2 linked regions of the Homo sapiens genome follow. The protein of the gene in region 1 interacts with the protein of each later gene in a pairwise test. Each region holds a gene or a part of one and is shown in the gene's direction. Other genes may lie near its edges. The genes, in order: ARHGAP12 and SHANK2.

What was found.
Region 2: the proteins of ARHGAP12 (region 1) and SHANK2 interact in binary tests that used the Homo sapiens proteins (3 or more experiments, as listed by UniProt).

What each region holds. Positions count from the first base shown.
Region 1 is NC_000010.11:31,924,468-31,936,515, reverse strand, and holds the start of ARHGAP12 (rho GTPase-activating protein 12), read left to right. Parts: upstream 1-7,684; 5' UTR 7,685-7,833; exon of another isoform or gene 7,834-7,854; intron 7,855-8,472; exon of another isoform or gene 8,473-12,048. UniProt on the Homo sapiens protein: GTPase activator for the Rho-type GTPases by converting them to an inactive GDP-bound state.
Region 2 is NC_000011.10:70,484,110-70,495,405, reverse strand, and holds part of SHANK2 (SH3 and multiple ankyrin repeat domains protein 2), read left to right. Parts: intron 1-2,940; coding exon 2,941-3,071; intron 3,072-5,018; coding exon 5,019-5,130; intron 5,131-6,057; coding exon 6,058-6,078; intron 6,079-7,685; coding exon 7,686-10,092; intron 10,093-11,296. UniProt on the Homo sapiens protein: Seems to be an adapter protein in the postsynaptic density (PSD) of excitatory synapses that interconnects receptors of the postsynaptic membrane including NMDA-type and metabotropic glutamate receptors, and the actin-based cytoskeleton.

The sequences.
Region 1 (12,048 bases):
TCTTAAGTCAAATAATTAGAGCTCTTTTATATATTCTGGTAGAAAATGATCATATGCATATAGAAATAAAAAACCCATAAAAACATACAAACAAAAACAAAGACCATATAGTTTTTTGTTTGGGTTTGTTTTGTTTTTGAGACTGGGTCTTGCTCTATTGCCCAGGCTGCAGTGCAGTGGTACAAACATAGTTCACTCTAGCCTTGACATTCTGGGCTCAAATGATCCTCTTGCCTTAGTCTCCCATGTAGCTGGGACCACCACACCCAGCTATCTTTTTTTTTTTTTTTGTAGAGACGAGATCTCACTGTGTTGCCCAGGCTGGCACATAGTTTTTATTAAAAGTTTATTCTTGAGTAAAGCATAGTAACCTAAATTTGCTGGTTTATAAGAAGACAATTGGATTCAAACCATATTTCTGACAACATAAGGCTAAACTTTGAGTGTCTTTTTTTTTTTGAGACAGAATCTCACTCTGTCGCTCAGGCTGGAGTGCAGTAGCACGATCTCAGCTCACTGCAACCTCTGCCTGCTGGGCTCAAACTATCCTCCCGCCTCAGGACCCTAGGTAGCTGGGACTACAGGTACTTGCCACCAAGCCTGGCTAATTTTTTTTTTTTTTTTTTTTTTGTAGAGACAGGGCCATGTTGCCCCAGGCTGCTCTTGAACTTCTGACCTCAAGCAATCCACCTGCCTAGGCTTCCCAAAGTGCTAGGATTACAGGCACGAGCCACTGTGCCTGGCCTTTGTTTCTTTAATAAGTAATCTTAAAAAGGCTGGGAAACAAATTTTGGGTAAAGCAGTTTGAGTCATTACCAATATACTGGATTGGACAAAAAAGGGCTGTGAAAAATATGACAATTATGTGAGGAGCCCCAAAAGATAAGAGTTATTATTTTTATATTTATTTATTTTTGAGACAGGGTCTTGCAACAGAAAAAAATCTGTTGCCAGGGCTGGAGAGCAATGGTGTGATCACTGCTCACAGCAGCCTCGACCTTCTGGGCTCAAGCGATCCTCCTACCTCAGCAACTCAGCCTCTCAAGTAGCCAGGACTACAGGCCCGTGCTACCACGCCCAGCTTTTTTTTTTTTTTTTTTTTTTTTTGAGACGGAGTCTAGCTGTGTTGCCCAGGCTGGAGTGCAGTGGTGCGATCTCAGCTCACTGCAACCTCCACCTCCTGGGTTCAAGCAATTCTCTTGCCTCAGCCTCCCAAGTAGCTGGGATTTTTTGTTTTGTTTTGTTTTGTTTTTTAAGTAGTAGAGATAAAGTCTCACTATGTTGTCCAGGCTGGTTTCAAACTCCTGAGCTCCAGCGATCTTCCCGCCTCAGACTCCCAAAGTGCTGGGATTACAGGTGTGAGTCACCACACCCTGCAAGAGCTATTCTAACGAGCTTTATACAATATTTTCTTGGTTTCTATTACTTATTCTTGAGACTAAGAGTGCTGCCTTTCCTTCTAGTATAGGGAAGGTGTCTTTTACATGGAAATTTCATCTTTTGCCTTTAAGAAACAGCATTAAGGCCAGAATAACTATAGAAATACTATGAAAACTAAAGTTTTGGCTGGTTCAGTGGCTCATGCCTGTAATCTCAGCACTTTGAGTTTGAGGCAGGTGGATCATCTGAGGCCAGAAGTTCAAGACCAGCCTGGCCAACACAGAGAAACCCTGTGTCTACTAAAAATACAAAAATTAGCCAGGTGTGGTGGTGCACGCCTGTAATCCCGACTACTTGAGAGGCTGAGACACGAGAATTGCTTGAATCTGGGAGGTGGAGGTTGCGGTGAGCCGAATTGCACCACTGCATTTCAGCTTACACGATGGAGAGAGACTCCTCCATCTCAAAAAAAAACCCTACAGTTTTAATAGTAACTATTAAGAATATATTTTCTTTTTTAAATTTTTTTTTGAGATGGAGTCTCACACTGTTGCCCTGGCTGGTGTGCAGTGGCGTGATCTCGGCTCACTGCAACCTCCGCCTCCCGGGTTCAAGCGATTCTCCTGCCTCAGCCTCCCAAATAGCTAGGATTACAGGGGCCCACCATCACACCTGGCTAATTTTTTGTATCTTTAGTAGAGACAGGGTTTCACTATGCTGGCTAGGCTGTTCTCGAACTCCTGACTTCGTGATCTGCCTGCCTTGGCCTCCCAAAGTGCTGGCATTACAGGCGTGAGCCACTGTGCCCGGCCAAGAATAGATTCTTATTAATCAGTATGCCAGAATAGTTGAGGAGTTTTGGAAAAAGAGAGTTTAGCATAGAGAAGGATAAAGGGGAGGAGGAGGAAGGGGATGGAAAGGTTTTGGGGAAGAATGAGTCCCAGGTAGCTTTGTGACAGTACTTTGCAGTGAGGCAATCTTTGAGTCTTGAATGTGAGTCTTTGAGCCTCAAGATACCAATTGAGATATCTGTCCTATTTGGACTGTATGATTTCATAGATGTGGCCCTTTACTTTAGTTTTAAGAAAAACGGACTTTTTTAATGATCCCTATAATGTTTGAACACGTCAGCTGGAGTCTCAGAAGGGGGAATTATTTTGGCATGCCTTTGAACTTTGAGAGCCCATTTGTAAATAAATTTAGCTGACTTGGTTTAATGACAAATACACAAAAACTTATATATATATATATATATATATATATATATATATATGAGATGGGGTCTCACTATGCTGCCCAGCTGGTCTTGAACTCCTGGGCTCAAATGATCGGCCTGCCTCAGCCTCCTAAAGTGCTGGGATTACGGGCATGAGCCATGGCGCCTGGCCACAAAAACCAATTTAAAATCCAAGTGTGCAAATGAATCAGAAAATAAAGTATGTACTCCCCAAGAGGGATAATAAGCCTTCTTTAACAAAAGAGAGAAAAAAATCCCTTTTAAACAGGAGTCCTCATAACCAGGAAGAAAAACGTATTCATCTTAACCAAGTCTATAGCAAGGAGGGAGAAAGTTCCCCTAAACAGAAGATTTCATAGCTGGTAGCGGGGAAGGATGCCTCCCAACCAATTCCCAAATAAAACTGAACTAAACCAAAAGAAAAAATATGAGTTCAAGCCAACAGAGACTCACCATGGGGAAAAGAGGTGGCTCGTAGAAGTTTGGGGGCTCAAGAGGCCTGAATTTGGGTACTTCATGCCACATTCCAGGTGCTAATTCTCCAAGGTGAGCCTGCTTTGGATCCCACTTCTGACTTCAAGTATGTAGAAATCAAAATAAAATATAGAGATGAATCTCTAAACATCTTATTTGGGAATCACAGAATTGGAATTTGGGATATATATATATATATATATATATATATATATATGCACATACAGGTGGTCTTTGGTATGCTCAAAGAACAAAAAGAAGGTTGGTAGTTTATTAGAAGGAGAAATGTTATGTTTTGTTTTAAAAGAAAGCTCACTGCTACTGGAGAAGCTTTGGGGAGCTGGCAAACTCTGATTGCTGAAGACAGCAGTAGGTAACACTAGTCTATGAGTCACAGTAGGTCATTTCAGCAGCTACTAGGTAAAACTATTCTTATGGTTACAGCAGGCTGTTTTAGCAGCTGGGCTTGCAGAAAATTTAATTTTTGGAGCTGGTGCTATGTGCCCTGAGTGATTTTTCCCCCCACTCCTGGACTCTTTGAGTTAGTTGGGTATGACAAGAATGTCCTAATTTGTATAATCAACTATTACAAGTACTAATTATTATTATTATTTTTTGAAACAGGGTCTCCCTCTGTTACCCAGGCTGGAGTGCAATGGCACCATCTTGGCTCACTGCAACCTCTGCCTCTCGGGTTCAAGCAATCCTCCTGCCTCAGCCTCCTGAGTAGCTGGGACTACAGGCGTGCACCACTATGTCCAGCTAATTTTTTGTATTTTTAGTACAGATGGGGTTTCACCATGTTGGCCAGACTGGTCTTGAACTCCTGACCTCAGGTGACCCACTTGCCTAAGCCTCCCAAAGTGCTGGGATTGCAGGTGTGAGTCACCACACCTGACCACAAGTACTAATATTTGTCTTTAATAATAGTTAAAACTGATCATATGAATTTATATAGTGAAAGCAGTGAGATTTCACAAGAAAATATTAATAAATCTCCTAAAACCCTTAAAGATGTGTTATGCAAATCTGACTGCTATTGTACTCATTATTCTCTTTGAGATTTCTGGAAATTAAGCCCACAAATAAATATAATCAAATACTGAAACATATCAGACAAAATCATTTACAGGGCATCTGTGTAACCCATGGAAACAAGAAGCAGTTGATATTACAAAATGGGTGAGTGAACAGATACACGAGAAACATATGCCTTTAGCGTTTTTCCCAAAATATATTTTGTTGACCTTAATTAACAGACAAATGATCCATGAAATTCTAATTTTATTGTTTAAAATGGAGGATCCAATTTGTTAAAACTTGTTCAAGGAAGGCTCTACTAAACTTGAAGAAAAATAGAGTACTTCTGAAAATTTATATACATTTGATAAAATGTATACTAAGCCTCAAAATAAATGTACCTGGATTTTAAATTATTACGGTAAGAAACAGACATCATTCAATCTGAACAAAAACTCTGAGGTTTTCAAAAGTTTGCCTATGAGCACTAGCTTACCTGATTTTATTTATTTATTTATTTATTTATTTATTTGAGACATGGTCTCACTCTGTTACTCAGGCTGGAGTGCAGTGTCACAATCTTGACTAACTGCAACCTCCACCTCCTGGGTTGAAGTGATCCTCCTACTTCAGCCTCTGGAGTAGCTGAGACCACAGGCACACACCACCATGCCTGGCTATTTTTTTTTTTTTGTATTTTCATTAGAGATGGGGTCTTGCCATGTTGCCCAGGTTGGTCTTGAATTCCTGAGCTCAAGCAATCTGCCCGCCTCAGCCTCCCAAAGTGCTGGGATTATAGGCATGAGCCACTGCACCCAGCCTCCTTGATATGTTTATTTTACTCAGGTAAACTTTTATAAAACAGAAGAAGCCTGAATGTTTTAATAACAACAACAACAACAAAAAGATGCCAGAAAAATTTTAAACATTTTCACTATTTGAATAGATAAAACATTCTGAAATTTTGAATATCAAAAAGTTTAAATATGAATACAATGAAGTCTATTTCTTATGCTTTCCATCTACTGTGTTCTCATACCTCATGTTACTTTGTCCTAGTTTAATGCATATACAATTTAATACAATATTCTGTACCGTATTTCTGTGTTTTTCACTTAACAAAAAAATCTTGGAGATCTTAATGTTAAAACAAAGAACTTTCTGTTTTTTTGATTAACAGCTGCACAATGTTCAAACATATGGCTCTATCATAATTTAACTAGTATCCTGTTGATAGATACTTAGCTTGTTTCCAATCTTTTGCTATTCTCAACAATAAGAAACACCTTGTTATTTCTTATGTGTGGAAACATCTGTGGCATAAATCCCTGGAAATGAAATTCAAGGCTCCGAGTATATATGCATTTGTAATTTTAATACATACTGCCAAATTCCTGTTTCTTTATAGCCCAGCCAAAGTAGTGATGCCAGATATAATTTTGTTTTTTCATTTAAAAATATATAATGAAAAGTAGGTTACTTATTAAAGAACTAGGAAGAAAGTAGGACAAGTTTATGCAAAGTACAGACTACATTTTCACCTAAAAATACATTTAACAGGAATCTATTGTGCATCTACCGTATGCCAAGTGCTTTTAGGCACTTGGGATATACACACAAACAAATCAGACTCAAATCTCTGCCTGTGTGTGGAGCTTATATTTCAGTTCTACATTTTGGAACTCTCTGCTACTTCATAAGAAGCCAGTTAAATGTCAAAATCCTGAAAATGATCTGTTGAAATCCTGAGCACAGGCGCCAGACATATGCTACAAGTGTTATTTAAAAACTAACTAGAGGCAGTGTTACATATGATCATAGCTCTCCATCAGGTTCTTTTAAAACAACACACTAGCGAGAAAGCTCTTTTTATCCGCCTCCATCTGCTGTTGGTGGTGATCAGCATACTGTGGGCATTGTGGTATCATCCGAGATTAGGCTGTGAAATAGGAAGTGGGGTTACAGGCAGATCCGCAAGTGTATGCAAACTGTTGAGTTCTATCTCTTGCTAAAACCAAGGGTGCCCAATTCAGGTTTGGAGAGTAGGGAAAGTAAGGTTATCAGCGCATTCCTATCAGGGTCGTTTTCTTTTTTGCACTGCTCTTGTTCTGGTTTTATAAGGAGAACACAAGCAGAGTCTATGGAAAATAGTTGCCAAAGCATACAGGAAATACTCCTTATACTGAACAAATGCAAGAAAACAGAACGGGTTAGAAACCGAGGGAGACAAAAAGGCAGTGGGTGCCAAGGACTGTGAAAAGCAAATGCAACGATAGAGACAGCACAGTCTCAGGCTTATTTTTCAAAAATTCTCATTGTAAGCCTCTTTCCTTTCTAAATGGAGACTATCTTAACACTTTAGCTCGCATTAGACTTAATTTAATAAGAAGGTTGTAAACCACAGCTGTTAAAGTCTTGCCACTGCCCTACCGGATTCTTCGCATCCTGTAAGGCACAATTCGGAGTTCAGCTGGTTGATAAGGAAGCCAGGCATTGTGGCATCTTCAAGTACGAAGTGAAGCACAGGAAAGAGCCAACTCCGGAGAGTAGCTCTTCATTGCTTGAATCATACATATGCTTGTTTTTTCCCCCCTCTCCTTTCTGGTCTCTATTATTAACAAATATTTCATCCTGGCACAACAGGCACAATCAACAACTGGTTAAGGAATGAGTAGTTACTGAAGTCCCAACGCCTCTCAGTTATTTTTCTCACACTCACTGTATTCTAGACCTAGAAGCCAGCTCTCATTTGAAAGCTGAGGTTCAGAAGGGTGAAGTGCCAATAAATGGCAGAAGCCAGGTCTCTTTCCTGATTCCCATTCCAGCTGAGCTCCTCCTGCCACTGGATCACCATCAAAGACCTGCCAAAGCTGTTACTTCCGGGTTCGGTGCTGCCACAGTGCAAACGGGGATGACTTTGGACAATGACCCTGTGGCCCCCGCAGGGCTCGCACCCTCAGGCCCGTGGAAGGCTAAATGCTGACGGACTGGTTCTGCCCTGGAGCGGCTCTCCGCGTCCCAGGGGTCTCCTCAGTCCCGAGTGTGCACAGCGGGTCCTGCCACGTACCCTGGCGACCCCAGCAATGGACTCAGTGCCCCGGGTCCCTTTCCGTCTCCCTCAGGCGGCGTGCAGCACTTTTTCGGGTGTCCCAGTGGAATTTCCGGGCCCGTGAACGACTGACCCACGCCCGGCCGCAGCTCCAGGGGCCGACGAAGGGAGCGCTAGGGCCCACGGCAGGGCCGTCTTTGCCCGGGCTCCATTCCTGCCACCCTGGCGCTATGTCCGCCCTTCCCTGGTTTTCCCTACGAGCGTTTTTTTAACGCTTCCCACTCCTTGTTTACAAAGTGCTGAGCCCCCTTGACCGCAGGCTCCCGCGCCGGCCCGAGTTCCCACACCGTACGCTGGCTGCCCCCTATTCGGATCCCCGCCGGGCGCCGCACCCCCTAGCCACCCCAGACCGTCCCGGAGACCCGCGCCCGCCCAGCTCGCCCGGGCCATCACGTGAGCCTCCCGCCCCGCCCCCGCGCGTCACGTGAGCCCCGCCCCCGCGCCGGCGCGCTCCGACGTGCCCTGTAACTTACCCTCCCTCAGAGGCCAGCCTGCGGGGACGGGCCGGCCGCGGCCGTAGCCGTGTGAACGCTCTTCGGGCTCGCGTCGTCGACCCGCAGCCGCGGGGCGGACTAAGAAGGGAGCCGCCTGCTGCGAGGCCGCCGGGCTCCCGGTGAGGTGCAGGGCGCGGGTCCTGGCGGACGGAGGGCAGGTTGGCGAGGCGCTGCACAAAGGCGCGCCGGGGCCGGGCTGTGCCCGCCGAGGGCGGTGGAGTCGGGGGGAGGCGTGTGCGGGAGGCGCGGCGGCGGCGGCGGCGGCGCCGCGGAGGTGCGCGCAAAGGGAGGTCGGGCGCGCAGCGAGGGGCTCTGGGCGCGGGGGTTAGGCGCCGAGGGGGAGGGGGCCGGCGCAGCCTATTGGCTGACGTGGGCGAGAGGGTTTAAATGGCCCGAAGTTGTGGCTTCTCTGCCCCCTGGGTTTCCTGACTTCCTGTGTGAGGGCAGCGCCCGCCCGCCCCGCCCCCAGGGAGGAGAGTGTGAGGGTGCGCGGGTGTGTGTGTGAGTGCGGGAGAGTGCGCGCGTGTGTGCACAAGGCGGGTGTGTGCGTGTCTATGTGCAAAAGGCGGGTGTGTGCGCGCGCGTGTGTCTGCAAAAGGCGGGTGTGTGTGTGTGTGTGTGTGTGTGCGCAAAAGGCCGGCCCGGCCCCTCCCGCGCCCTGGGCCCACTCCCTAATCGCGGTGGGGCTTGCAGGCCTCCACCCACCCGGGGAGCCCACCCGGGGAATCCACCTGGGGCGTCCCTCGAGGACTGTTGACCTTAAACCGGACACTTTCTTCTTTGCGGTCTTTCCCGGTGCCCTGCCCCTGCTGGATGGACGTGCATTCGCTCCCCTCCAGCTTATCTGGGCGGAATCTCCTCAAAGTCCTTGAATTGAAAAATCCTCTTTACCAGCGTGCAGCCCGCCTCCCATCTCAGGGGAGCTGGTTGTCTTCTCAGAACGGCTGTCCTTTACGCGTTGCTATCTTAAGTGACTGCAGACCCTTTGAGAAGAAATGGCCACACGGTCTTCGTTAGAGAAAAAGGCACGCCCTTCAGCTTTCGAGGCGTGTGATGTTTTCCTTTTGACTGCAGCTGCAGTTTTGTAAATGTATTTTCAAAGGCTAAAGCACGACGTTGAAAGTACACCTTTATCGAAAGTTTTAATGTCATCCCAAGTGGAGTGTTTGTTGTGGATAGAGGCTTTTAGCACTCTAATAACACGATTGGTTGTGGCTGGCTTTTGGGTTAATCATGACATTGAGAAGTAGATTTTATCGACTATTTAGGCATGCGTTCCTAAAGGGAGGTGGTGGAGGAAGGAAGGCTCACTCGGGTTCTGATTCAGGTTCTGCCACCCGACTTCTAGAGGTTAGACCTTGGGAGACTCCGGGTGTTTCAATGGAAGTGTTAAAAATAAGTATCTAGCCCCTAGCCACGCCTCTTTCATACTTAAAAGTCGGGAACGATGGCCTAGATGTGTGTGTACTTGCCCATATCGCCTTTTCTTTATCTGTAGGAGGGTGTTTTACAGAATCGGTCATCTTCCTCTACCTCCTCTGGTCTGAATAGGCATTTTGGCTATTTTTATTTTGCCTTGGAAACGTTTCAGAGCTGGGTTTTGAGAGCCCAAAGCAGGCAGTGAAAGCGTGACCCCCACCCATGCCACCTGACGAGCCAGACCGTCTGCGCACATATGTGCGACCCCTGGTTGCATGCGGCTCCACTGTTCTAAAAGTGTTTCTCTGTGGGGGAAAAAGAAACCCCAGAAGTGTAATATAATGTGTGTATGTATATTTATGCGCCAATATTTGTTGATAGATTTCTGTTCGTACTTCATCAAGCTGGAGAAGACTGATGACTCATTGATTGTTAAGATAATGCCGTCTGTATAGTTAGTTATATATATATTAGTTGTTCATATATAATTATCAATACATTGCATCTCTTTCGGTTTTATATTTGCTAATACCAGTTGTTTCGAGGTGCAAATGAAAATAGATTAAGTGCTGTAGAAAAACAGCATGTTACTTGTAGTTAATCATTTGACTTTTCTTTAATTAGAAAGAATCTGCTCAGTGGTTTTTTAGTAGGCTGATAGAAAGTGAACTTTACAAATTTTTAAGTACTCTACGTAAGTGATATTACTGAAAATAATACGGGTGATTAAAATTTTTAAATGGAGTAAAAACTAAATAGTGGTGATCTGTTTAACCATTAAACAGTAGTACTAATATTTTACTTACCTGAGAAAATGGGCATCACAGTTTTACAATAAATCATGGGAGAGAAAAGTGAAATTAAACTTTTGTCCTGTATTTAACAATTTTGGCTAGAATTGCAAATATGCACTATTTTGTAGTATGAATCAGATGTGAAAGGTGTCGTAGTACGACATAGCATCACTGTACTTCAAATCGGGCTTTTCAGATTACCTCTTTTGAGGAACCTATTGGGCCACTATCCTTGTGGTTTTTTTTTTTTTTCTTCAGTTAGCTGGCCCCGGCTCATTGGTATATGGCTTTGCTGTGATTCAGCCATTTCCCTATTACTTTCATTGACTTCATGGACTTAATGAATATTCTGCAGTTTCGTTTTGTAATTGATTAGCTCTTTAATTGAACTGAACTGCCAAATGGTGTAGTCTCTAAGCCTCCTTCCCCTGTTGATAATCTAGTGCTTCTCAAATTTTAACGTGCATAGGAATCACCTGCACTTCTAATATCCACTTGGTCATATGGATGCTGTTCTGCCAGACCACAGACCACTGCTGTCCAATAGAAATGTAATGCCTATATAAATTACTTGTGCTTAAAGTTTCTAGTATTCACATTATAAAAAGTAAGCACGTGGAAAAAAAGTGAAATAAATGAATATATTTTACTTAGTATATTCACAATATCATTTTAACATGTAATAGGAAAATTATTAATGAGATATTTTATGTTCTTTACATTGGACCAGGTTTTTTGAAATATCAAGTGTGTTTTACACTTAGAGCATTTCTCAATTTGCATTAGGCACATTTGACTAGTGACTGCTGTATCGAACAACAGTTTTGGAGTCTAAAAGTGTAGACCAATGTTACTCTTAGTGTATTTTCAGATTGGCCTCATCAGCAATCCTTGAGAATGTAAATTTTAGGGCCCCACCTCATACCGGTTGTTGTTAGAATATCTAGGGCTAGAGCCTGTAATCTGTGGTTTGAAAACGCTCTGGGATATGGCTATACAATGTATATGTGGTATTCTGGATGGGACCCTGGAACAGAAAAAGGACATTAGGAGAATACTAAGGAAATCTGAATGAAGTGTGGAAATTGTTATGTGTCAGTGTTGGTTGATTGAATATGACAAATGTACCATACTAACATAAGTTGTTAATAGGGATAACTGGGTCCAGAGTACATGGGAACTCTGTGGACTATCTTTGCAGTAATTATGTAAATCTAAAACTCTTTTAAAATAAGAAGTTTATTTTTAGAAAAGTTCTTCAGATTATTCCATTGCTCACTAAAAGTTTGAGAATCCAGTGATCTAGATTATTAATCACTTGTACTGCTACAGCTTGTTTGGGCAGGATGGTGGCCAGTATTGGGTCTGGTAGGATGATGATAATAGTTTTTTTGTAGTAAGACCTAAAACTTTTAAAGCACTTGCCATGCTCCATGCACTATTTCAAGTGCCTTACACACATTTACTTAATTCTCCCAGTATGCAGTATGTACTACTAATAAGCTGCACTTTGCAGATGGAAAAAACTGAAGCCCAGAGAGGTTAAATGACTTGTCCAGAGTCACACAGCGAGAGACAGAGACAGGATGTTTTATAAATTATCAGTGCGTTTGTGACTATTTTTCTACTCTCACAACTTTTGCTTCCTTGAGTAAGCACTGATTAATGTAGATACTCTGTGACGTCTGAAAGTTACAAAGTTTTTTTTCTTTCTTCTCACAAACATCTTTTGAGGTTTGTATTGTTTGCTTTGTTTTACAGGCAAGTTAAGGTGCCTAGGGTCCTGAGAGCTGATAAATGGTAAAGCCTAGATTTAAAATTTAGACCTCTGACTCCAAGTTCTGTGCTCTTTTCCTTCCCCACAGCAGAATTCAGAATATGTTATGAGGTTAGAGTGACATCTTTTAAAGTTGGCTGAAAATTTCCTATATTTTGCTACATAATATATATTTTTAAATTTCAGTTTTATTAAAGTGTAATGTACATACATAAAATAAACTAACATTCAACAATAAAAAAGAATGATCTATGGAGACAACATGAGTGAATCTCAAAAGCATTAATCTAAGTGAAACATGTCAGACACAGAAGGCTACATACTATATGATTTGTATTTCTCTA
Region 2 (11,296 bases), on another chromosome or scaffold:
CACCTGGTCCCAAGTCAAGGGGGAGAAGCCCAGCTGATCGGCGAGGCCAGGGAACAGAGGCCGGCACAGAAACCAATTCGACCCCAGCCATCCAAGGAGTCCCAGCCCAGCCCTGGGAGGGGAAAGGCTCCTTGGAGGAAGCAAATTGCTGGGACCATGGCAGGTGGACCCAGCCCGTGCAGCCCAGGGAGGTTGACAGGGACCCCAGCAAAGGGAATGTGAGATGAGGCAGCCATGCAGCACCTGCTGCAGCCGGAGGAGCTGGGATGAGGGCCTTGAACGCAGGTGAGGACAGCACGGCTCTGGACTGGGGTCACAGGTCACAGCCAGGATGTCCCCACTGCCAAGTGAGATGAGAATCGGGTGTTTCCTACCGTGCCTGACCAGTTCCCTGAGAAGCAGATGCTTAGCATCCACTGGGGGAATGACAAGGTCCCCAAGGAGGCATCAGGCTCATCGAAGAGCCAGCAGGGCTTGTGGGTCCAGGAATAACAGGAGAGAATGCATGAGCAGGGACGCAGAATTGGGGCCCAGTGAGCCTGCAGGCCTGGTCAGCTGGACTTGGTCATGAAGGGAGAGAGTGCTGTGGGGGGAGATTTGGCTGCCCGGACACTATGGGGCAAGGGCTTTCTTGCTTTGCGTGAACACTTGGCATTTTGCTGACAACTGGAAACGTGGTCCAGGCCAGGGGTCGGCAAACACCTCCCTGAAGGGCCCCATGGTAAGTGTGCTGGGCGTGACAGCCATATGGCCTCTGCTGCACATTCTCCTGCCTTTTCTTCCCCATCCTTGTTTGAAGACTAAAAGTGTATGGCTGGGTGTGGTGGCTCACACCTGTAATCCCAGCACTTTGGGAGGCCAAGGCGGGCACATCACTTGAGGTCAGGAGTCTGAGACCAGCCTGGCCAACATGGTGAAACCCCGTCTCTACTAAAAATACAAAAATTAGCCGGGCATGGTGGTGCTCGCCTGTAATCCCAGCTACTCAGGAGGCTGAGGCACGAGAATTGCTTGAACCCAGGAGGTGGAGGTTGCAGTGAGCCAAGCAGCCCAGGTGACAGTGAGAGTCCATCTTAAAGAAAAGAAAAAAAAGTATAGACTGCCCTGAGGTTCTGGCCCGGTGGGGGCAGGACTGGCCCAAGGGTCTGGAACACAGGCCTGGAACCAGGCCCCTCATGCAGACTCTACTGTGAGAGTGTCCATAGGTGTCAGAGTTGTGTACGTCTCAGCTGCTCTGCAAGGTTGAGGGGCCATCACAGGGCGCCTGGCTCAGTGTCCCCAGCACACCCCCATTTCCTCTCCCCAAACTTCCTCTTGTGGGGACCTCTGGTCTGGGCTGCCTTTGTCAGGAGCCTGATGCCTTTGTGTTGGACAACCCTGATCCGTGCCGTGGCTCTGGGAGCTTTGCCCGTGGGTCAGCTCCCCGTGAGAAGCTGCCATGACAGGTAACTTCCGCCTCAGCTTGAAGAACAATTTGGAGATGGGGGCCTTCCTCCCTGCACTCTGCTCAGCTCTAACTTGCACAATAGCCTCATGGCTCAAAGTCTGGGCAAGGCCCTAGCATACACTTCATGGGAGCCACCAGACCCCAAGAGTGGGCTTAGGGTGGCCAGAAGGCAGAATGTTCCAGATGGCCTGCTTCTCCCCAGGGAGTAAGGCCAGTGCTGTCTCAAAGGCTCAGAATGGGGTACACCCACCAGATACCACACTGGCTTTGTCCCAACCCAGTGACATCTTAGAAGTACAGCTGGGGTCACCTTTTCCAGAATGCACATCGCGACTGGAAGACCAGCTCTCCAGGTCTCAGTGGCACAGGGCCCTTGCATTTAAACAGCCTTAGACACACCCTTATGCCTGATCCCAAACACCCTGAGATGAAGCTAAGGCGTCAGGAGAGCTCTGGGATGTGCTTCAGTTTTCAAGTAAAAAAAAAAAAAAAAATGTGCTGCAAATGTCCTCTTTAAAAAACTTTTGTTAATTGCTAAGGATCCCTTATAACTAAACTTTGGTTTTCTTTTTTTTTTTTTTTTTTAAAGGAAATGGGAAGGTTCTGCATTGGGGAAAATAAACAGAGACCTTCCCTCTGCAACACTTACTAACGCCTGGGGCCACGAGCACCCTGGCCTCTGAAACACCCACGCTGCCTTGGGTGGCAGATCCTCATGTCTTGGCAATCACAGTTACAAAGGAACCATATGTCTGAGTCTCTTCAAAAAAAAAAACAAAAACAAACAAAAAAAAAAACTTCAAAAAGTCAGTTTAGTTAACCCTCACAAGAATAAATCCCATTAGAAAGAATCAAGTGATTCCACTAAAGAAATGGCCCAAATGGCTGTAATCCCAGCACTTTGGGAGGCCAAGGCCGGTGGATCACTTGAGGCCAGGAGTTCAAGATCAGCCTGGCCAACATGGTGAAACTCCGTCTCTACTAAAAATACAAAAATTAGCTGGGCGTAGTGGCAGGTGCCTGTAATCCCAGCTACTCTTGAGGCTGACGCAAGAGAATTGCTTAAACCTGGGAGGCGGAGGTTGCAGTGAGCCAAGATTGCACCACTGCACTCCAGCCTGGGCAACAGAGCAAGAGACTGTCTCAAAAAAAAAAAAAAAAAAAAAAAAAACACAGAAATGTCCCAAAAAACAGAAATGTCCCAAAAAGCTTCAGAGCCCTTGGGGGCTGGGCACTTAAGAAGGTGGCCGAGCTGTGGAGGGTCTTCTATGTCCATGCCTCGTGCATGCCTCCGAGGGCAAGGTCCTGGGAAGGAGCCCATGCCCCAGTGGGAATGCATGTGGCAGAGGCACACGCATGCTCCTCACAGCAGCAACAAATGCCCCCTGCACAGTTTTGGATGTTGGAGTGGCTGCTGCACCTGTGCGCTTTCCTATCTACACCCAGCTTCCCCCACTGGTGTTGCTGCTCCAATCCTCACGGTTCTATTGCAGATAAACCCGAGGAGATAGTCCCGGCCTCCAAGCCCTCCCGCGCTGCTGAGAACATGGCTGTGGAACCGAGGGTGGCGACCATCAAGCAGCGGCCCAGCAGCCGGTGCTTCCCGGCGGGCTCAGACATGAACGTGAGTGGCCGTACCTTGGGACCACGAGGGCGGGGGCCGACGGTGCCCAGGAAGTGGGTGGGCTGTCTCAGTAGCTGAGGTGCACACGCTTTCATGTCTGGTTCGTGCTGTCCAGAGGTGGGGCCCAAATCTAAGTGGCCACAGGACAAAGAGCCGGGTCTGTGCAGACTCACAGTGGTGGGACAGAGCAGGCTGCATCCAAGCCCTGCCCTTACCGCTCACTCAGTGCCCTGAGCCTCGAAGGTGTCCTGTCATACTTGGCTGAGGACCCGTGAGCACATGGAAGTAAGGGGCCTTGACACACTCTTCAGACAGAGGGGCTCTTGCCTCCTGGTCCACCCAGAGCACAGAAATGCTCCGGTGTGGAAGAGGCCGTCTGTCCCACATCCCATGTGGCAGTCCCCCACACTCTCCGAGATCCTGGGCAACACTTGTCCTCGGAGCCAGAAGTGCCATGAAGGGCTTCAGTGGCTGCTGGGCGCAGTGGGTGCCTGGCTCAGAGCAGGCTGCCCGTGCCATGGTCACCTTCCCTAGGCAGTCAGGAGGGCACACAGCTGGAAAAGGGCCTGGGGCAGAGGCTGCTGATTCCCCCAGGCACGTCCTGAACAAGGCGTGGCCTCCTGGACCCTTGGATTGCTTCTCCATTGTGCAGAGGCAGCCATCTGAACCTGATGTCAGATTCTAGCACTGCCTACCTGTCCTGATTGCTTACCTTAGTATTCTCTTTGAACCAGTATCAAACTGCCTATGTCTAGCTTTTTCTTGAACAATAACACCTATAAATATTATAAATTTACCACAAGGCTTTTCTGTAATGTGCATTAAACAACTGTTAATAATTACAGTTACAATATCTGCCCTCACACCTCCTCCCATCACCTCTGAACTCCACAAGGGGACTTCCCCTCCAGGCCCTGCCTGCCGGTCCTTGCCTCCCACTTTGTTCCCAGTCCTTCGTGGCACCCACATGCCCCACCAAGTTGGGGGGGTGTCTGAGACAAGGTGCCCTTGATCTCCCAAAGGGTCCCACTTTGCTCCTCAGCCTCAGGGCCATAGAGTGAGACAAACAGAGGCTGTGGACACATGGAAACTGCATCTCAAAGCTGGAGCAATAAAAGCTTGCACACGAATATTTCCATTGAGCGTCCGCATCTGATATTTTCCCGGGTTGGCCTTCAACACTACAGGTTTGGGGCCCTGAGCCATCTCAGTTTTGCAGACAAAACAACAGCCTGGGGAAGCGAAAGAGTTGGCAGCACCAGGACTCTGCTTCCAAGGTGGAGGGGAGGAGGGGAGCTCTAGGCTCCTCCTGGGACAGGCTGAAGAGGGAGGAAGCTGGGGACAGCTCACTGCTGCAGACTCCAGGCTGTGCCCCTGAGCAGCTCCAGGGCTTGCTTAAGCTAGCTGGCACATCATGCTCACCCACACACCACCACAATACCTGGTTGGCCTTTGCACACACTGTGGGGCTGGTGTCAGGAGCCCATTTTATGAAAGAGGAGATGGTGGCTCCTATGTAAGGACTTGATGGTCACATGGCACATGGGGAGTGGGGTATGGACCCAGGCCAGACCCCACTGCCCACCACGCTGTGCCCTTTCCCACAGGACATCCAGCCTGGCCCCCCTCTCAGAGAGACGTATCTGTCCAGCTGCTCTGGCAAATGGTGTTGCAGCAGACCACATCTCCATGGAACAGGGCATGCTGCCATCCTAACAGGGCCAAAGGCCAATAGCAGCTGCAGCGAATAGGAAAGGCACCTAGAGAGGGACCTTCCTGGGTCCTCAATGCTGTGGTTCTCATCAGCCCCACTGGAGACTTTAGGTGGCTCCAGAAGCAGCTTGGGGAAGCCACAGTGACGGAAGTTCCCTTGTGGTCTCTGGGCCCTGTGACCGTGGGTGGGGGCTGGCCAGGGCTGCGTCTCACCCTAGGCTCTCTGGTTTGCAGTCTGTGTACGAACGCCAAGGAATCGCCGTGATGACGCCCACTGTTCCTGGGAGCCCAAAAGCCCCGTTTCTGGGCATCCCTCGAGGTACGATGCGAAGGCAGAAATCAATAGGTAAGAAGTGTGGCACTCCCCCACAGAAGTTGCCCCTGGGCTTTCAAACACAGCCTTAGGCCCCTCAGGAATTCTGAGCCCTGGGCCTCTCACAGTTGCCTTGGCGTCCCACCCCAGCAAGGCCCTGCCAGCCCACCCACCAGAGGGTGGGAACCTGGCCTTGCCCACTAGGGAGCCATTGGAACATCTGAGTGGCATGAAACTCATCCCCCCTGAAGGACACAAAATCTAGGGTGGCTTCTGTCATCTTGAAGCCCAGTTATCTGTGATAATTCCAGCAGGGTAAAGCGGGAGGGTGGGCGGGGTGGTGCGAGCCAACCCCCCTCCCCCACCCTGCCCTGCTCAGGGTGGGAAGGGTAAGTGGGTTCCCTGCATTCCCCAGCCACCACCAGGCCTGGAGTATGAGCTCAGCAGATGTACTTCCAAGGGTGGTTGGGTCAGGTCTCGAAATGAAATAATGTACTGTGTGTTGCAGAAAACTGCCTTCCTTTCTTCTTAATGTCACAATTATTCCTATTGACCCTGTTGCAGGCAAAGGTACACTTGACCTTGAGACAAGGTCACACTTGACCCTTTGAGACAGTCCCTTTGTGAGATAATTCAGCATTGCCTTTACTGTGTCAATTCTGGTAGAAGCTAAGGCCCTTGCCCTGTGAGAGTTGTGGAGGCAACCCTGGGACTCTGGTCTGCCCAGCCCACCCCAGGGGCACTGTCCTGTGTGTTCTGGAAATGCCTCTGGGCTGCTGTGCAAAAGCGCAGCGTGCTTGTGAGTCTCAGGTGGATAACTGTAGGCAGTCACTAGGCAGTAAGTGGCCGTGGAGGTGGTGTCTGCTGTGCTTAAAGCTCCCCCTGCACCAGCAAACTCAGGGAAAGCTGCGTATTTGTCTTGCGGTTACTGGTTAATAACAACTGATTTCCTCCTGTCAGACAGCAGAATCTTTCTATCAGGTTAGTGAACCTTACGGTTTGGAATCTGTAATCTGAATGTAACCCAGTTTACTTTATAAGGTGTATTCTTAAATTAGTACTCCTTGGGAACAGAATTGCCAGACAGCCAACTCAGAGTGACTGGTCAATGGAGAACACTTTGAACGAGCCATCTTTGCAATGCCAAAATGTCCTCCCACAAGGAGTATGTTAAATTTGGAATACCCTTATCGAATGGAAGTTTTCATTGGAATAAATTATTGTAGTTTGTCCTAGGACTTTTTTTCATTTCAAGTAATTTATTTTGCTACCTCTTTGAAAACCTGCATGCTCCCAACATGAAATCCCTGTGCCACGCGTCTGTCGGTGTGTGTGCGTGTCTCGCTTCCCTTCTCCAAGTGCTCCTGTTGACGTGTCTGTGTCTTCAGCTGTTGAACAGTCTGTAAAGTCACACCTAGGCAACACACCCAGAGAACCCTCAGGCCACCCTGCTGGCTGTCGTAGGACCTCAGCTGCATCCCCACACATTCAACATCCACATATTTTCATTAGGTCAACTCATACTTTGTGCCAGGTCAGCCACACTTGGACCCTGGTTAGTTGCGATTATGGTGGTCCACTGGGCTCTCAGCCCCTGCTCCAAAGGGTCTTGGCAGGACCACTTTCAGGGCTGCCGCTGGGACCCAGAAGGGGCTCACTGAGGCCTGGCTCAGGATCCTATTCCTGGCTCAGTCCAGGACTTTAAAGGAACCTGGGCTCCCTCCCCTCAGGGGCAGGCTCTAGAGCCCACATGGCCCCTCCTCTGAGCTGCAATTCCCCAGCCATCCATCTCTCTGAAGGTCCAGAGAGCTCGAGGACACATAGAACCCTTAGTGGGGCCCAGTGAAGTCAGGCAATGAAAGGATTCACATGACCCTGGAAGAAAAGCACCTCCTCCCAGCACGCACAGAGCCAACCGTGGGCAGATGGCTTCGCTCAGGGTGGCAGAGGCCTCCCTGTACATCTGGGCAGCCGTGGGGCTCAAGTGCCATCTGGACGGTGGACTGCACACCATCCTTGCCACATAAACACAGCAATACCTGCAACCCTTTGCTCTCATTTCAGATGCACAGGTGACAGCCTTAGACCCCTGCCCTAAAAACACCCCCAGGAGCCCTTACCATGCCTGAAGGGGCATGGTGGAAGGATACCTCCTGGTCTAGCCAACCCCGCCCCAAGCACAATGCCACAATGCCAGCACAAGCACACGTAAGCGCACACACACACGCACAAGCAGCCCCAAGGCGAGCTGCCCACTTGGCCTGCAGACTGGCACACGGCTCAGCGTCAGGGGCCCTCCTGCCCTGGCCTCACACAGCTCCCCTGCTGCAGCCTGTGCCTGGAGGCCCCACAGCAGCAGCGTACTCACAGCATCCCCAGTGCCTTTCTGTTCTTCCCTTTCTTGTCCTTTGGCTCACGACGGGCCATGTGACTAACCACTCGGCATCGTGGCTTGTGCTGTGTTTCCTGAACATCCGGTTCATCATCTGAATTTGTGAGTTTGTGGAGATGTAGCGTATCGCACGTTCCTAGGAACTTAGGCTTTGTTGCTATTGTGACTTAAAGCTAAACCTGTTTTCTGCTTGTAGGAATAACAGAGGAAGAGCGGCAGTTTCTGGCTCCTCCAATGCTGAAGTTCACCAGAAGCCTGTCCATGCCGGACACCTCTGAGGACATCCCCCCTCCACCGCAGTCTGTGCCCCCGTCCCCACCACCACCTTCCCCAACCACTTACAACTGCCCCAAGTCCCCAACTCCAAGAGTCTACGGGACGATTAAGCCTGCGTTCAATCAGAATTCTGCCGCCAAGGTGTCCCCCGCCACCAGGTCCGACACCGTGGCCACCATGATGAGGGAGAAGGGGATGTACTTCAGGAGAGAGCTGGACCGCTACTCCTTGGACTCTGAAGACCTCTACAGTCGGAATGCCGGCCCGCAAGCCAACTTCCGCAACAAGAGAGGCCAGATGCCAGAAAACCCATACTCAGAGGTGGGGAAGATCGCCAGCAAAGCCGTCTACGTCCCCGCCAAGCCCGCCAGGCGGAAGGGGATGCTGGTGAAGCAGTCCAACGTGGAGGACAGCCCCGAGAAGACGTGCTCCATCCCTATCCCGACCATCATCGTGAAGGAGCCGTCCACCAGCAGCAGCGGCAAGAGCAGCCAGGGCAGCAGCATGGAGATCGACCCCCAGGCCCCGGAGCCACCGAGCCAGCTGCGGCCTGACGAAAGCCTGACCGTCAGCAGCCCCTTTGCCGCCGCCATCGCCGGAGCCGTCCGCGACCGTGAGAAGCGGCTGGAAGCCAGGAGGAACTCCCCGGCCTTCCTCTCCACAGACCTGGGGGATGAGGATGTGGGCCTGGGGCCACCCGCCCCCAGGACGCGGCCCTCCATGTTCCCCGAGGAGGGGGATTTTGCTGACGAGGACAGCGCTGAGCAGCTGTCATCCCCCATGCCGAGTGCCACGCCCAGGGAGCCCGAAAACCATTTCGTGGGTGGCGCCGAGGCCAGTGCTCCGGGTGAGGCTGGGAGGCCGCTGAATTCCACGTCCAAAGCCCAGGGGCCCGAGAGCAGCCCAGCAGTGCCCTCCGCGAGCAGCGGCACAGCCGGCCCCGGGAATTATGTCCACCCACTCACAGGGCGGCTGCTTGATCCCAGCTCCCCGCTGGCCCTGGCACTCTCCGCAAGGGACCGAGCCATGAAGGAGTCTCAACAGGGACCCAAAGGGGAGGCCCCCAAGGCCGACCTCAACAAACCTCTTTACATTGATACCAAAATGCGGCCCAGCCTGGATGCCGGCTTCCCTACGGTCACCAGGCAGAACACCCGGGGACCCCTGAGGCGGCAGGAGACGGAGAACAAGTACGAGACCGACCTGGGCCGAGACCGGAAAGGCGATGACAAGAAGAACATGCTGATCGACATCATGGACACGTCCCAGCAGAAGTCGGCTGGCCTGCTGATGGTGCACACCGTGGACGCCACTAAGCTGGACAACGCCCTGCAGGAAGAGGACGAGAAGGCAGAGGTGGAGATGAAGCCAGACAGCTCGCCGTCCGAGGTGCCAGAAGGTGTTTCCGAAACCGAAGGTGCTTTACAGATCTCCGCTGCCCCCGAGCCCACCACCGTGCCCGGCAGAACCATCGTCGCGGTGGGCTCCATGGAAGAGGCGGTGATTTTGCCATTCCGCATCCCTCCTCCCCCTCTGGCATCCGTGGACTTGGATGAGGATTTTATTTTTACAGAGCCATTGCCTCCTCCCCTGGAATTTGCAAATAGTTTTGATATCCCCGATGACCGGGCAGCTTCTGTCCCGGCTCTCTCAGACTTAGTGAAGCAGAAGAAAAGCGACACCCCTCAGTCCCCTTCGTTGAACTCCAGCCAACCAACCAACTCTGCAGACAGCAAGAAGCCAGCCAGTCTTTCAAACTGTCTGCCTGCCTCATTCCTGCCACCCCCTGAAAGCTTTGACGCCGTCGCCGACTCTGGGATCGAGGAGGTGGACAGCCGGAGTAGCAGCGACCACCACCTCGAGACGACCAGCACTATCTCCACCGTGTCTAGCATCTCCACCCTGTCTTCCGAAGGTGGAGAGAATGTGGACACCTGCACAGTCTATGCAGATGGGCAAGCATTTATGGTTGACAAACCCCCAGTACCTCCTAAGCCAAAAATGAAGCCCATCATTCACAAAAGCAATGCACTTTATCAAGACGCGCTCGTGGAAGAAGATGTAGATAGCTTTGTTATCCCCCCGCCCGCTCCCCCGCCCCCGCCGGGCAGTGCCCAGCCTGGGATGGCCAAGGTTCTCCAGCCAAGGACCTCCAAGTTGTGGGGCGACGTCACAGAGATCAAAAGCCCGATTCTCTCAGGCCCAAAGGCAAACGTTATTAGTGAATTGAACTCTATCCTACAGCAAATGAACCGAGAGAAATTGGCAAAGCCGGGGGAAGGACTGGATTCACCAATGGGAGCCAAGTCCGCCAGCCTCGCTCCAAGGTAAGTCCGCGGTTGGTGCACATGCACACCGCTCTGCGTGCACTGTCCCTGCTGACCAGGAAAGGCCCTCGGGTAGCAGCCCCAGCGGACACGAAGAGGGGAATTCGTAAAGCCTGTGTGGGCCACGTCTGTTAATGCAGTAACACTTCTTTTTCTCATGCTCCTGGACTCCGGGATAGCCGAGTAATGATCACAGCCATCCTGGTGGGACACAGCACTCCTTCATAAAGACTTGTAATGAAATGAGGTTGCTGGAAGCCCTCCTCACCTTGGCTTCCAAAGAGAAGCTCTACTCTCTCTTCTGTGCCCTCCAGATCTCTGCCAGGACCACCTAGAAGGCCGTTTAGAGCCTCGCCAAAGCCCAAACCAAGCTTCGAGTTGGTTGCAGGAGACTAGCTGCCCCAAGAGGGCAGCGAGTGGGTGGGCGGTGGGTGCAGGTGTCTGAATACACGTGTGGGTTCTTCTTCCCCTCCCATCACTACCAGGTTTGCGGGCTTGGGAGGCACAGGGTCATGGCTGTACTGGTGAACTCTAAGTGCAGTACATTCTTCCCTGCCAGCCCATCCTGTCCCAGGGGCAGAAGCCTCTAGCTGTGTCCATGTCAGCCCTTCACAGTATTGTGCAGGGTTTACATTATTTCCATTGGAACTGAACGTAGAATAAGTCAGGAGTCATTTCTAGACGCAACCAGAGGGCTCTATCTGAGGCTGTCTGGAAGGAGCCTATATTTGATCATTCTTGCACTGCTATAAAGAAATAGCTGAGACTGGGTAATTTATAAAAAAATGAGGTTTAATTGGCTCGAGTTCTGCAGGCTATATGGGAAGCATGATGTTGGCTTCTGCTTGGCTTCTGGAGAAGCCTCAAGAAACTTTCAGTGATCACCAAAGGGGGAGCAAGAGGGAGTCGGGGGAGGTACCACAGTCTATTTAAACAACCTGATCTCATGAGAGCTCACTATGTACAGTAGCCAGGGAAGATGGTGCTAAACCGTTCATGAGAACTCCCCCACCATGATCTGATCACCTCCCACCAGGCACCTCCTCCAACACTGGAGACTACAATTTCACATATGAGATTTGGGTGGGAACACAGATCCAAACCGTATCAGGGCTCAGCAGTCTGTGGCTTTGGGGAGCCCCATTGGCTCCCGTGATGGCTTATGGTTCTTGGTTCTCCTTCCCTGTGGTGTGCACCATTTTGC